2 linked regions of the Homo sapiens genome follow. The protein of the gene in region 2 purifies or fractionates together with the protein of the main gene of each other region. This does not show direct contact. Each region holds a gene or a part of one and is shown on either strand. Other genes may lie near its edges.

Region 1 (7,410 bases), on a different chromosome or scaffold from region 2:
ACGGCAATATTGAACAAACCTTTTTTTTTTTTAATTTTCAAGCAGCCAAGACATAAAGAAAACCATATTGGTTTCACAGTTCTCATATAATGGCTGGAGGCATATGACTTAATCCAAGAGACAACCTATTCCTTACCTTTGAAACACCTGTGAATATTATCAAAAGGACACACACAATAATTTACAAGAGATAACAAGTTTAATAGAAGGTGTTCTTCGAAGAAGTTTTTCAACATCATTCTGTGGAGTACTGCCTTTTATATTGACAGTTGATAAAACCCGAAGGTAAAATATTAAATTATTTATAGGTAAAGGCAATTCAGCGCAGTTATTCATCTTTCTTGTTAATTTAACATGATCCAAGTATATGTACTAAGGAATTTAGAAAAATGAATGGTAGGAGTGGTACTGAAAGTATCCTCACATACCAAATCTCTTAGGAAAGGTTTTTAAGATGCAATTCCTACTTTAAATAGCCACTGCCTAAAGTGTTAATTTTCTCAGTGACTAATTGAGAAAACACCAATATGCTTACTTCTTTGGGCAAGAAGTTAATACGACCACTCCCAACATTTAGTCAAAAGTACTATCAAATCTGTAGCATGTTCACAACATATTAAAAAATGAAACAAGAATACAAATAAAGAAAATAAAATACATTTCACATTTTTTGAAAAAACATTCATTTTTGCATAATAATTTTAAGTGAAATTATGCAGATGTTAATTGCATCACATATGTTTTCCCCTGCTGTACTGACTTCTCAAAAACAAGTTAGAACTTTTCACTGTGATAGATTCAGAAGAACCATGTTGACATTTTCATGAAAAAAAATAGAGTATTACTGAAATAAGAAGGGAAATATACTCAATCAATTGCCTCACCTTGACTGTTCAGGAAAAAAAAGTGGAGGAATACACTTTATTCTACAGATTTCTAAGGATATTACATCAAAAAAAGTACAAAATGACAATTTTACAGTTAGAAATTATGTTCTATTCTAAAATGAATAAAGTTTTCTAGTTTTGCATTTTTTTTTCAAAAGAATTCACTTCAAAAAAAAACTTGTGAATTAGCATAAAATAACCCCTTATCACAAAGGAGCCCAAACTAAGGAGGCACCAACTAAGGCTGAAACAAACTGAGCATTCTTATTCTCAGCACCTGCGCCTGGCCTGGCCCAGGGTGACATGCAGGGGCTTGGAGCCCACTATGCGGCCATTCATCTCATCCACTGCTTTGGTAGCCTCTTCAAAAGAGGAAAAGCAGACCACACCAAATCCTTTGCCTTGCCCCACTTCCATCATCACTTTGGCCCGACTAATTGACCCAAAGGAAGAAAATTCCTCCTTCAGTTTTTCATCATTGATTGTCTCATCCAAGTTCTTAATATAGATAGGCACCCCTGGGGGCCGACTTTTTTCTTTTAACCTCAGCCGTTCAAATCTCCGCCTCAACTCAGCCAGGCGTTCAATTTTCTTCTGTGCTCGCCCTACATAGAGGACTTTTCCATCGATGGACTTTCCATGCAAGTCTAGCACAGCCTTTTGGGCAGCCTCGTGTGTCTCATATCTCACAAATCCAAAGCCTTTAGATTTCCCACTGGCATCTCTTATTACTTTAACACTCTCAGTTGGCCCATATTCACAGAAAAGTTCCTTCAGTTTTTCGTCATCTATGTCGTCTCCAATGTTTTTAACGAAAACATTGGTGAAAGTTGCTCTATCCCTGGTTCTGACCTCAGCCGCCCGCTCTTCTGGGAATTTGAATCTGCCAACATACACCTGGCGGTTGTTGAGCCGCACTCCATTCATGTGCCAGATGGCTCTATTGGCAGCGGCCAGGCTGTCAAAGTGAACATAGGCATAACCCTTAGAGCCGTTGTCATCGCATACGACTTTGCAGGACAGAATGTTCCCAAAAGCAGAAAATAAGTAAAACAGGGCCCTATTGTCTATGGATTTGTCCAGGTTTTTGATGAATATATTTCCCACTCCAGACTTTCTTAAGCGGTCATCTGGCTGAGACCACATAAGGCGGAATGGTTTTCCATTAATCAAATCAAAATTCATGGTGTTCAAGGCCCACTCTGCATCCGCGGGAAAGCGGAAGTTAACATACCCATAGCCCAGGGGGCTGCGGGTCACCGGATCACGGCAGATTCGGGTGAATCGCAGAGGGCCAGCAGGCCTGAACTTCTTATAGAGCATGTCCTCGGTGACATCTGGGTCCAAGTCACCCACGTACAGAGCGGCCTTGAGATACTTCTTTTTCTTGCCAGCAGGATTAGGCTCCCCGCTCCCCATCTCTCTGAGCACTGGGAGGAGGTTCTCTTTGAAGAGAAAAAAGGCTGCTTTCTCTAAGCTATGGGCCAAACAGCTGTTCACGAACAGAAAAAGCCAAGGCAGGCAAAAGGAAGCTAAAAGCAGACTCAGAATCACTGTCGAGGCTGAGAAAATGAAGTTCAGAAACAGCTGGTCAGCAGGCTCAGAACAAACACATCAGACAAAAAGGCGCCCCAAATACGAATCTATTCTCCCTGCGGGGACTTAAAATTGTCACCCGTTCAGATTTAAAATCAGTTTCAAAAGCCAGTACCAGAAACGTAATTTTCCTGTCCCCGTGAAATTGTGAGAAGCCACCAAGCAGCTGGCTGGTTCCCCACAACTAGCATTGCAGACAGAGGCCTCCCGACCCGCTTTCTGCATAAATATAGGCCTAGAGCTCCTGTTGGTTTAAAATGATATCAACAAGGGCAGGGACCGAGCGCGTATTCCTCCGCCGGCTGCCTGGCCAGTCTCGGGCTGGCTAGCCTTTCGCTAAGGCCTCTCCGCACTCAGCGTCTGCGAAAGGGTACACCAGACACTTGGTGCGATAAGACCGGCAGGCAGGCTGCAGGCAGCGGATAGGACACAGAGACAGACAGACAGACACACGCGCGGGGGATCGAAGACCGCCCAGATACCCAAGATGCCCACTGGGTACGGACCGAGTGAGGCGCGGTGATTTCAGCAGCCTGAGGCTCGAGGCAGGTCCGGAGAGACTGACTGGCAAACGCGCAGTGAGTGGGTCAGCTCTGACGCGAGGCGGGTCTGGCCAGATGCGGGGCGGAGTCAGCGAAGAAGGGCAGATGCGCGGCGGGCGGTCCCAGCGCAGACCGATGGGCTGGGGTTTCTCTCCGCAGGACAGTCCAACGGAGGGACCAAGAGCCAGTAGCAGTGATAGGGAGGGGGGACAGGCGGGGCGCGAGAAACCCGGAACCGTGCTAAGTAACTTCCCGCTTCCTCTGTACCAAGATTTAAAAAAAAAGAGAGAGAGAGAAGGGGGGAGAGAGAGAGAGAGAGAGAGAGAGAGAGAGAAGGGGAGAGAATGAGAGAGAGAGAGAGAAGGAGAGAAAGAAAAATCTAAGATGGCTTTTAGATGTTTCTTATATTTTAAATGTTATTTATTATTTAAAACACTATATTTAAGCCGAACATCTAAAAATCACATAAGAAGATGACGACCTGGGCAAAAATAATAAGTTTTAAAAAACTAATTATCAAAATCATTTAAGCTTAGGGAAAAGGATAGGTTGCATACTTTCCTGAGTGCATTGGAAAGTCAAAGTTTACAAATGTCCTGGCCTCCCAATCCAGTGCTAAAGGATCACAGGGTCAAGTAGAACACAGGACCATGTTGCCTTTGGCCTTTAGCCTTACTTCATTAATCTCCAACATAATGGTAATATTTTCCTCAGGTGGTAGGCAAAGAGATCTTTTCTCTGATCCCATAATACTAAGGTTTTAATGATTGGAGAGCCATATAATGGCTTTTGATGGTGTTTAGTGCCACAAAACGTTGAAACTGTTGAGCTGCCGCGAGAATTACAGTTACAAAATCTCAGTTAAAGAGATAAAAGCCACAGAATCAATACAAAATATGTAATTAATATTTACAGATGAAATAAACATGTTAAGATATATGCACTTTACACAATTATGAATTTCATCATGAGTTGTCAACTTGAAACCCTTGAAGGAAACAGTGCCATCAGACTGGACTCAACTCAGCAGTTTCTCAACAATATCTCTCTTCAGAGTATTTGAGAAACCCTTTTGGAGAGAAATTTTGACCGTGTTTTCAGAAATTCACTGATATCTAGCATGCGCAAACAACACTTCAAGAGGCTCCTTCCACAATTCCTACCCCTCCAGAAAAATCCAAACAAAACATCTATCACTACTCTTAGGCTGGAAAAGATCCTGGGAAAAAAAGATTGCAAGAGAAGGACATTACCTTAGTGGGTGTTTTCCTAATAAGTCCTCAGAATAAGAGGCTAAATTAACGTATTCATTCACTTTATACATTTTATAGTGTCTATTAGACTGTAGAGTTGACATTAAACCTCATTATTTACTCAAAAACTTAGTAATTTTCTTTACTATTTTTTTTTTTTGCTTGCTTTCTAGTGTTCTTGGTTAACTAAGACATGGAGATTTTGAGAAAAGGCAAATATGAACAATGATATTATAGACTAATAAATGGGTTTTACAGTGTGACCAGAGTGACCAACATGTGGAAACACTTGTGAACATCTGCCTAGTTTATTGCATTTTGAATATATTTTTATAAACATATTTTCTTTTATGCGTAATTAACAATGGGTTAGAATTCTAGTCTGTTTTGGACTTTTCTCATTTTTAAAACTGCCTTATTGAAAATAGTAAAATAACAACATAAATCCAATTTCCACAATCTCATCATTGATTCAAATCAATATTTTCATCTGTTCCTGTAACCAACTAAATGTTGTCCATATTCAAATTTATTTGTACATATTTTCTCTAAGATTATAGTTAGAATTGATTTGTTATAATACACGTTTTCAAAATAATCACTTCTCTACACTTACCACTTCCATTCAACATAGTACTGGAAACCTTAGGCAGAGCAATTAGGCCAGAGAAGGAAATAAAAGCATCAAAATCAGAAAGAAAAAAGTAAATTAATCTTTGTTTGCAGATGGCATAATCTTATCTGTAGAAAACCCTAAAGTCTAATATTTTTTAAATCTCCATACTATCCAAACTGATCAATATAATCCCTATCAAAAGCCCAATGGCATTTTTTTTTTACAGAAATAGAAAAAACAACCTAAAATTCATTTGTAGTCACAAAAAAACCCTGAATAACCAAAGCAATCTGAGAACGAAGAAAAAAGCTGGAGACACCATTCTTCCTGATTTCAAAACATGTTACAAAGCTACAGTAATTACAACACTGTAGCACTGTCATAAAAAACAGACATATAGGCCAATGAGGCAGAATAAAGAGCCCAGAAATAAACCCACACATGTACAGTTAAGTGGTCTTTGACAAAGGTGCCAAGAAAACACAATAAAGAAAGGATTGTCTCTTTCACAAATAGTGTTAAAAACTTGGATATACGTAAAATTGGATCCTTATCTTACACTGTACACAAAAATCAACTCAAAATACAGACTTTCAACCTGATCCGAAACTATAAAATTTTAGAAGAAAACAGGGTAAGAGCTTCTTGACATTAGTCTTACCAATGACTTCTTGTATATGACACCAAAACACAAGCAAAAAAAAAAAAAAAAGAATATAGAAAAAGAGTACATCAAATTAAAAGGCTTCTGCACAGCAAAATAAACAATCAACAGTGTAAAGGTAGCTTACAGAATGGGAGAAAATTTTTGTAAAACAAGTATTTGATAAGGGGCTATCGTCCCCAAATAAAAGGAACTTTTACAACTTAATGGCAAAAACAAACAAAGAAACAACTTGAATAGTCATCTCTCAAAAGAAGGAATATAAATGGCTAATGGGTAAATGAAAAGATGCTCAACATCATAATCATCATTGGAATGCAAATCAAACCCTTAATGAGATGTCGTCTCACATCTGTAGAGATGGCTATTATAAAAAATCAAAACATAACAAATGTTGGCCAGTATGTGGAAGAATTGGAATCCATTACCTTTGGTGGGAATGTAAAGTGGTACAACTGCTATGGTAAACAGTATGGAGGTTCTTCAAAAACTTAAAAGTAGAAATTCCATATGAAGCAGCAATCCTACTAGGATTGCTAAATCCTTACAAGGTAACATGTAACCTTACTCCTGCAATCTGCCAACATTCATGCTCTCTACCCCTCCCCACACACAACTAATTGAGTTAATATGTATCCAAGTTCTACTGGATAGTAGTCACATATATTTAGGTATATATCCAAAGTAATTGAAATCAGAATCTCAGAGATATTTGCACTCCCGTGTTAATTACAGCATTATTTACCATAGCTAAGTCTTGGAAATGACATAAATGTCCATTGATGGTTGAATGCATAAAGAAAATGTGGTATAAACATACAATGGAATATTATTCAGCCTAAAAAAAAAGAAATCCTGCAGCATGTGGCAACAGGGATGGGATGGAGCTCAAGAACATTATGTGAAGTGAAATAAGCCAATCACGGAAGGGCAAATAGTGCATGATTCCATGTCAATGACATATTTAGAATAGTTAGACTCATGGAAACAGAGAGTAGAGTGGTGGTTGGGAGCGACTGCTGGAGGGGAACTGGGGAATTCAGTGGACATAAAGTTTTGGTTACACAAGATGAACAAGTTCTAGAGAGCTGCTGTACAACATTGTGCCTATATTTAAAAATACTGTATTGTGCTCTTAAAAAGTTTGTTAGAAGGGTTGATCGCATGTTAAGTGTTCTTAGTACAATTTTTTAAAAAAATCATTCAACTGTGAAGAAATATGAGTATTAAAAAACATATAATAAAAATAATATAACAACTTTAAATATATTTTGAGTTAGTTTGGCATCTCCTCAGGGTGATTTTTTATTTTAAAATATTTAATGGACAAAGATCGTATATATTCAAGATGTACAATGTGATGATTTGCTATATGTATGCATTGTATAATGATGACTAAAATCAGATTGATTAACACATCTTAGAGTGCCCTTTTAATTAGATATTATTAGTTTAAAATAAATACTTAGAATAGTACATGTGAATTTAAGCAGTTACTATGTATTCAGAATCCAGTGTATTTAGAGATTTATATATAATTAAGCTATTTTCTGTTATGATACATTGAAACAAGGTAGGCGATCGTTGCCTGCTTAGCAGATAGTCTCAGACAAATTTCTGTTTCTTTGCTAGTGCTTGTTAACTGAACACGTCTCATATAGGGAAAATATATATTTAGCACATTCTCTGATTAGAAATCTTGATTTGTAGTCCTTTCACTTGACCTAGAAGAATAAATAAAAGAATAATAATTTTAAAAGATGTGAACATTATGCTTTATTTTAAATTTTAAAATTGTTGTAAAATACATGTAACAAAATTTACCATCTTGATGATTTTTAAGTGTTTAAGC
Region 2 (7,095 bases):
CCTCTTTTAGCCTGCTATGTTCTAAAATCTTGAGAAGTCTACTAACCAAAGTAGTATTAAAGTAAAAAAAAAAATTTTTTTTTTTGAGATGGAGTCTTGCTCTGTTGCCCAGACTGGAGCGCACTGGCGTGATCTCGGCTCACTGCAAGCTCCACCTCCTGTATTCACACCATTCTCTCACCTCAGCCTCCCGAGTAGCTAGGACTACAGGCGCCCGCCACCACGCCCAGCTAATTTTTTGTATTTTTAGTAGAGACGGGGTTTCATCGTGTTAGCCAGGATGGTCTAGATCTCCTGACCTCGTGATCCACCCGCCTCAGCCTCCCAAAGTGCTGGGATTACAGGCATGAGCCACCGCACCCAGCCTAAACTAAAAATTTTTTAAAATTTAAGAAAATGTATACTTCTTAAACAAAAGACTATTTTTCTGCTACCAAAGCTGAATTAAAAGAATGCTTATCCAAGTATAAACAATATTAAGAAAAAGAAAAGCAGTAACTATTACCGATGGAAAAATATGAGACTAGTGTGGAGGATAGCAATGCTTTCCAGACCAGGGACCCCAAAGTAGTCCAAAGGCTCTCGGAGCTTGTCTAGACCTTGACGGGATTTTTAGCTCTTCTTAAAAACCAGTTGAATAGCTTCAATAATTGGGGAAGAAATGTCTTAAAAATGAGATCAACAGAAACCTAAATTAATTTTTATTCTGATCAGAGAGCACACATGCACTAGCTCGCTTTCGCACTCTCTCTCTCTCTCTCTCTCTGTTAAATTGCCTATCCACATACTCGGGAAATTATGTCCTGTTTTAAATATCTCATTGGTGAGCAACAGACAGGAGGAGCCCCAAATGTCAGACACTTGTCTGGCACACACACATAGAGAAGCTGGCTCCGGCAGGAGCTCAAGCTGTGAGACTCAGCTAATTCCTATGTGGGTGAGAAAATGAGGGCACTTGGCCACCACTCTCTACAGAAGCCATTGAAATGGTGGAACCTTCTGAGACTTTGCTATAGGTATGGCCATTATGCTAGCACCAGGCTGTGGGTTTTCTTTCTTTCTTGTTCTTACCAGAAGAAACAATAAGCAAACAACTTGCTAGCCTTTGAGAACATGAGTAAGGGAAATGCCAATTCCTGGCTCCATGTTATTGGCATGTTTCCTTCCCTTTCCCAGTGTCAATCTTGCTACAGAATCATAGATTGGAAAGGGCTTTAGAAATCCCATAGCCCTATTGTTTCATGTTACAGATGGAGAAACTGAGACCTATAGGGTATAAGTGACCAGGCTAAGGTTTTACAGTTAGAAATAGAGTGAGAACCTTTATTTTCTCTTTAACCTCCTTTGGCTAGCATTTTTGAAGTCCTTTATATCTTGGCCTGGTCACTCGCTGTCCTTTCTCCTTTTATCATCTTTCACTGTATCTGTCTCCTCTTACCAACTAACACACTATTATTTTGAGGACAGCTGTCTCACTCTATTAGTTTTCCTAAGCTCAACTCCTATTACCCAATACCTCATTTTTGCCTAAACAGGAATTACCAAGAACCTTCAGAAATCTTGACCAAGCACTCTAAAGCAAAGGCAAGCAGTACTAGCTGGGTATTACTGCTTCTAATAAAAGTGAGAAAGGAGAATCCAGGAATTAAAAGTCAACAACAGCAGGCATCTGTGATTGTGCAAACACAGTGTTTATGGACTACAGATTTAACCCTAAGGTACTTAGCCAGAGGCCAGTACATAGCCAGGACTAAGAAGGGAGCCTTCTGAATCAAAACCACACTCAAATTACATAGTTAGTGGAACAAGGTTATAAATTTGTCCAAGAGGACAGTCAGATGAGTAGAAATTGTAAGATAATAATAGACTATCGGAAATGGTAAGAATAACCATACAGTCACGCACCACATAACATTTCTGTCAACAACAAACCACATCCCATAACAAAATGGAGCTCAAAAATTCCTATAGCCCAGTGACATCATAACCAACTAAACATCTTGACACAATGCATTACCTTTTCTACGTTTAGATATGTTCAGATACACAAATACTTATCTCTGAGTTACAAGTGCCTACAGTATTCAGTCCAATAACATGCTACGCAGGTTTATAGACGAGAACAATATGCTATACTATATAGCATAGGCGTGTAGCAGGCTATACCATCTAGGTGTGTGTTGGGTACACTCTATGATGTTCACACAATGATGAAATCACCTAACTACGTAATTCTCAGAACATATCCATATCATTAAGTAATGTATGACTGCATAACCTGACCATCCAAATCACATTTCCTAAACTTTTCCCAAAAGTTCCTTTTAAATCTGTGTCAAATTCACTGGCGAAAGGAAGCAGAGGAGGTGGCTAAGCTGAGAGTCAGTCTAATTGATATGTTGGGGCTAATTATCTACAAAAATAACGCAAAGGGGGTCATATAACTAAACACTTAACGGGAGTGGGGAGAATGGTGAAATGAGTGACACAGACAAACATCTGTACAATATACAATGCTTTGGCAAAAAAGAAAAGACATATAGTATCAGGTAAATTCTCAACTGAAATATATAAGTCAAATTTCCAGTTTGAGAAAGATTAGGACTGTTTATAGATCACTCTAAAATGAGAAAAGTATTTCATTCTGATGAAAATGTTCAGGAAAAATATAGAAATAAAGGAAATTACTGAATAGCAACTTTAATAATTAAGCAGCCAACTTGAAAATGTTACTTAAACATCTTTAATATCTAATGAAAGGAAGCCACAGGTGATATATTTCCTCTATGATTTCATATTATATATTACACTAAATAATGTTCCAAGGTTACTTTACAACTCAAGATTGGGATTGACAAATCATCCCAAAATTATTTATTGCTGTAGGTACACAAGTAGTAACCTCACACATTTTTCTACCCTTAGTAAAGTAACAATTCTAAGCAACGCATTATAAAAATGTAGAATAATTCTTTGATAAACTCATCTTTACACAACTGACTAGACTATTTATTATTATTAAACTTTACTGACTACATTCAGTATAAAGTTTATAAATAGGGCTCAGACTGTTTTCAAATAATTCATGTATAACGTGAAAATAAAAATATAAGTGGGACAATGAACTGGACAATGGGAGTATAACAGATAATGACATATTACATCATTAGTTCTTAATCTAAAATCCTTTGACCAGGAGAGTTATGCAAACCTAGTAAAAGGAGCCCATTATAAGGCTGCAGAGTAAAACTAAAACATAACTTTGGGCTAGCATTCTATTAATTCAGTGTGATAAGACTGGTTATCAAATGATAATCCAAGCCTGTGATTGGCAGCTTGTCTGTGCCTTATTTTTTAAAGTGGAGGAAAAAGAATAATTATTATTTAATGAGTATAAATTGGTAAGCAAAGTCTTTCAAAACTTTTTGGGCTCATTAAAAAAGGGATGGTCAAAGGATTCTTAGGTAGCAAAAAGATTAGAATAGGTATTTTCTCAGCCTTCCCTAAAAATAAAGCCAACGCGTATTGAACACATATTGTGTCAAATACTGAGCAAAGTACGTTACATAAATTATCTCCTTTAATCCTCACAAAACCCCATAAGGCAGGGAAGATTGATCCTATTTTTCAAATGAGAAAACTGAGGTTAAGTGAAGGTAATAACTTGTCCAAAGTCACACAACTAATGAGATTATCTGAAATCTGACTCCAAAGCCTGTTATTCACCAGTATACTTATTCTATCCATCTATTTAAAGAACAAAACCTATTTATACCTATTTATTGATACTCTAAACACGTTTCCATTTTTAACTGATTTGTTTTCACTAAGAACACTCTGCATTTGATACGAAATAAAAACTACAAATATAAAGATTTTGAAGCAATACAACTTGCTATAAAGTATACTTTCAAAAATCTAGCCTGGGCAATGTAGCAAGACCCTGTCTCTACAAAAAAAAAAAAAATTGAAATGTTTTAAATTTTAAAATGATGGCAACAGCCTGTAGTCCTAGCTACTCAGGAGGCTGTGGCAGGAGGACCACGTGAGCCCAGGAGATTGAGGCTGCAGTGAGCTATGACTATGCCACTGCACTCCAGCCTGAGTGACAGAGCAAAACCCTGTTTCAAAAAAGGAAAAATCTTAGTGGCAAAAACTAACTGGTAAACTGTAGGACTATATTTTTAAAGAAAAATGCCTAACCTATTTTAGCAAGACCAGTATTTAAACATAGTGTTACTTTAATAAATGTTTTGGATTCTTTGAGGCAGTCTAACACACATGAACTACTATGCCTTGTAAGCTTACTTTATAAAAATATCACAATTAACTAATTATAGTAAAATATGGACTAGTACAGATAAATCCATTATCAAGATTAAAAAGTTTATATGCTGTAACTGTATCTTTCTAAGCTTACTTAAGGAAGGTATCACTGTTTCAGTATGTCTTTTAGAGTATATATTGCTGTGAAAAGAGTCGATGATACAAGAAGTAGCCCAAGATTGGATTCAGTATTCTCCTAAAAATCTCTCACTGAACAAATAAAATACAAAAAGCAATATAAGATCACTCCCAGTTTAAAAGTATATGGCACACAGTAGGGCTGGGAACCTAAAAGTTTTCAGATAATAAGCCAAATTAAACAATCAAACTAGCCTATTCCAACAGCATGAAGTACGGATTGCATTCGTTTCTGTTTTTGGTGTTTTGAGACAGGGTCTTGCTCTGTCACCCAGGCTAAAGTGCAGTGGCATGATCATAGCCCACTGTAACCTGAAACTCCTGGGCTAAAAAATTCTCTCACCTCAGTCTCCTGAGTAGCTTGAACTACAGGCACGCACCGGCAAGGCTGGCTAATTTTCTTTTACTTTTTTTTACAGAAATGAAATCTTGCTATGTTGCCCAGGCTGCTCTTGAACTCATAGCCTCAGGTGATCCTTCTGCCTCAGTCCCAAAGTGTTGGGATTATAAATGTGAACCAATACAACCAGCCAGAATTATCTAGATAATGTCAATACTATTTTATTATGAATTAGCCTGATAACCACTATTGCCATTTATTTTTCCAGTGGTTTTTTTAAAGATTATACAATAAAAAGCATATCACTATGCCATGTAAAAGTGTTATAAGAATGGACAATTATTGATATGTGCTAATCATATGAAATTTAAGAAGTATAAAGCCACATATCGCCAAATAGTATGATTCTCAGGGTAACCTAAGTTTTGAAATAAAGATTAAAATATCTACATAAGATAATCAACATATATGCCTATAGGACTAATGCCAGACAGTGCCAAAGATATCAATCTTTATATTGTTATATGTTGCGGTAATATGTATTAGTACACGAAGTTAGGTTCTGATGTAAAACTGCCAATTAAGATAGTATGTTAAACTCCATAAAAATAAGCCTATTATATGCTTCAATGCATATATAATTAAAAATTTTTTTCTTTAAATAAAAGTTCTAGTGAGTTCACATTCTTAGTGATAATAATCTCATGTTGCAAACAGCACAGCACCCTCTGGTGCATCTGTTATAAGAAATATAAAATTCCCACAGAAAAGGACAGAATTGTAGAGTAAAAGTGAACCTTAGAAATCAATAGGTTGATAGTTTTTTTATTTACTGCAGTACATATTTTTGAACATTAATACTTAAAAATATTATCATTTTAAAAGATCACTATAAACTTTATAGCAGTAAATGAAGTCAGGAAATGTCTTAGTTTGAAAATACTTAACCAACAAAAACAACACCTATTTCCAACATATAAAAAATGCTGTCAAAAAATTATTTCAGTAAAGGATGACAAAAGTTAACTTGTCATGTTAACCAAATTTCACTTTATTCAAATTGGCCTTGGGGTTTGACTTGGGTGTGTAAAATGTTCCTGTGTACTTTTTCTGGATTCAAAGGGAATTTACCATTATTTATAAGAATTGATAAGTGTTTTGTGAAAGAATCTGCAGGTTCTACCACTTAAAAATAGAATATTCAGAAATAAAAGTTATGTTAAATTACGAATCTTGAGTAGTTCAAAACTTTTACTTTAAAAAAAAAAAACTTTTCCTAGAAAACTCTAAAAGTAGATTTTACTAACAACAAAAGCAAAGGATGCCACCTGCTTTAGACAGCCCTTTTGTCAACCACTGGAAGTCCCAACACAATGCAGTAAAAAATGAAAGTGACACCTGTTTAAAGCAGCCATCTGTCCCTAACAAGCCAGATTTAGTCAAATCCACTTAATCTTGGATTTCCAAAATATGGGAACACTATGTATCTGTGAATAGAGAGGAATTTAAAACATACTTTGTCATGGCCACTGGGAATATATACCAAAGAGTTAAAGGCAAATTACTCAGTTATGAAAACTGTTTTTAAGGTAACTGAGCTCAAATAGAGGATTTTTAGCCAAAGGTTCAGCATTAAAACAAAATAACCAGGAGCCTCTCAAAAATGTTAAAGTTTACTTCTTCCCTATTCTCATTTCTTGTAACACATTCTCACTATGGATACTAAGAACAAAGTAATATTCCTATTACTGTTCTGGAAAAGTGTGTGTGCGTGTGTGTGTGTGTGTGTGTGTGTGTGTGTGTAACTTTTGCCACACATCTGCTGCTATGCCCACCCATTTAAACACAAACACACACACACACACAGACTTTAAAATCTGAAAACCAAAAATCATTATATTCTGCCTGCTAATTTCTTCAGCTGGAGAATACCAACACAATATCAACTTTCTCAAGAAATGAAAAATGTTACCAAAAAGTAACATACATTATCATTTAAACGACGCATAAAATCCAACTTGCCTTTAAGATTCATTCATTTTTTAATTGCTATTGTTAATGGTAAAAAAATTAACCATAATAAATTGTTTAGGGTAAAATAAACTGTTCCAGGTTAAAGCACAGTAAGCTTATAAACTATAACCTTTTATTTGAGTACCAAAGCAGAGTACAAGACTATTTGAGTACTGGAGGAATAATACAAAAAAAACTAACCATCACTACAACCTTTAATGAAAACATTGTGAAACGATGCAAAACTTCTAGAAATTCATTAGTTTGCCATATATGTG

Evidence for each region. The genes of interacting proteins can lie anywhere in the genome.
Region 1: the proteins of RFX3 (region 2) and PABPC5 purify together in Homo sapiens (affinity purification with mass spectrometry; 2 studies listed by BioGRID and IntAct, with this or other methods). This does not show direct contact.

The regions. Positions count from the first base shown.
Region 1 is NC_000023.11:91,430,474-91,437,883, reverse strand, and holds the start of PABPC5 (polyadenylate-binding protein 5), read right to left. Parts: upstream 3,046-7,410; 5' UTR 2,990-3,045; intron 2,982-2,989; exon of another isoform or gene 2,885-2,981; intron 2,450-2,884; 5' UTR 2,307-2,449; coding exon 1,158-2,306; 3' UTR 1-1,157. UniProt on the Homo sapiens protein: Binds the poly(A) tail of mRNA. May be involved in cytoplasmic regulatory processes of mRNA metabolism. Can probably bind to cytoplasmic RNA sequences other than poly(A) in vivo.
Region 2 is NC_000009.12:3,515,982-3,523,076, forward strand, and holds part of RFX3 (transcription factor RFX3), read right to left. Parts: intron 1-7,095. UniProt on the Homo sapiens protein: Transcription factor required for ciliogenesis and islet cell differentiation during endocrine pancreas development. Essential for the differentiation of nodal monocilia and left-right asymmetry specification during embryogenesis.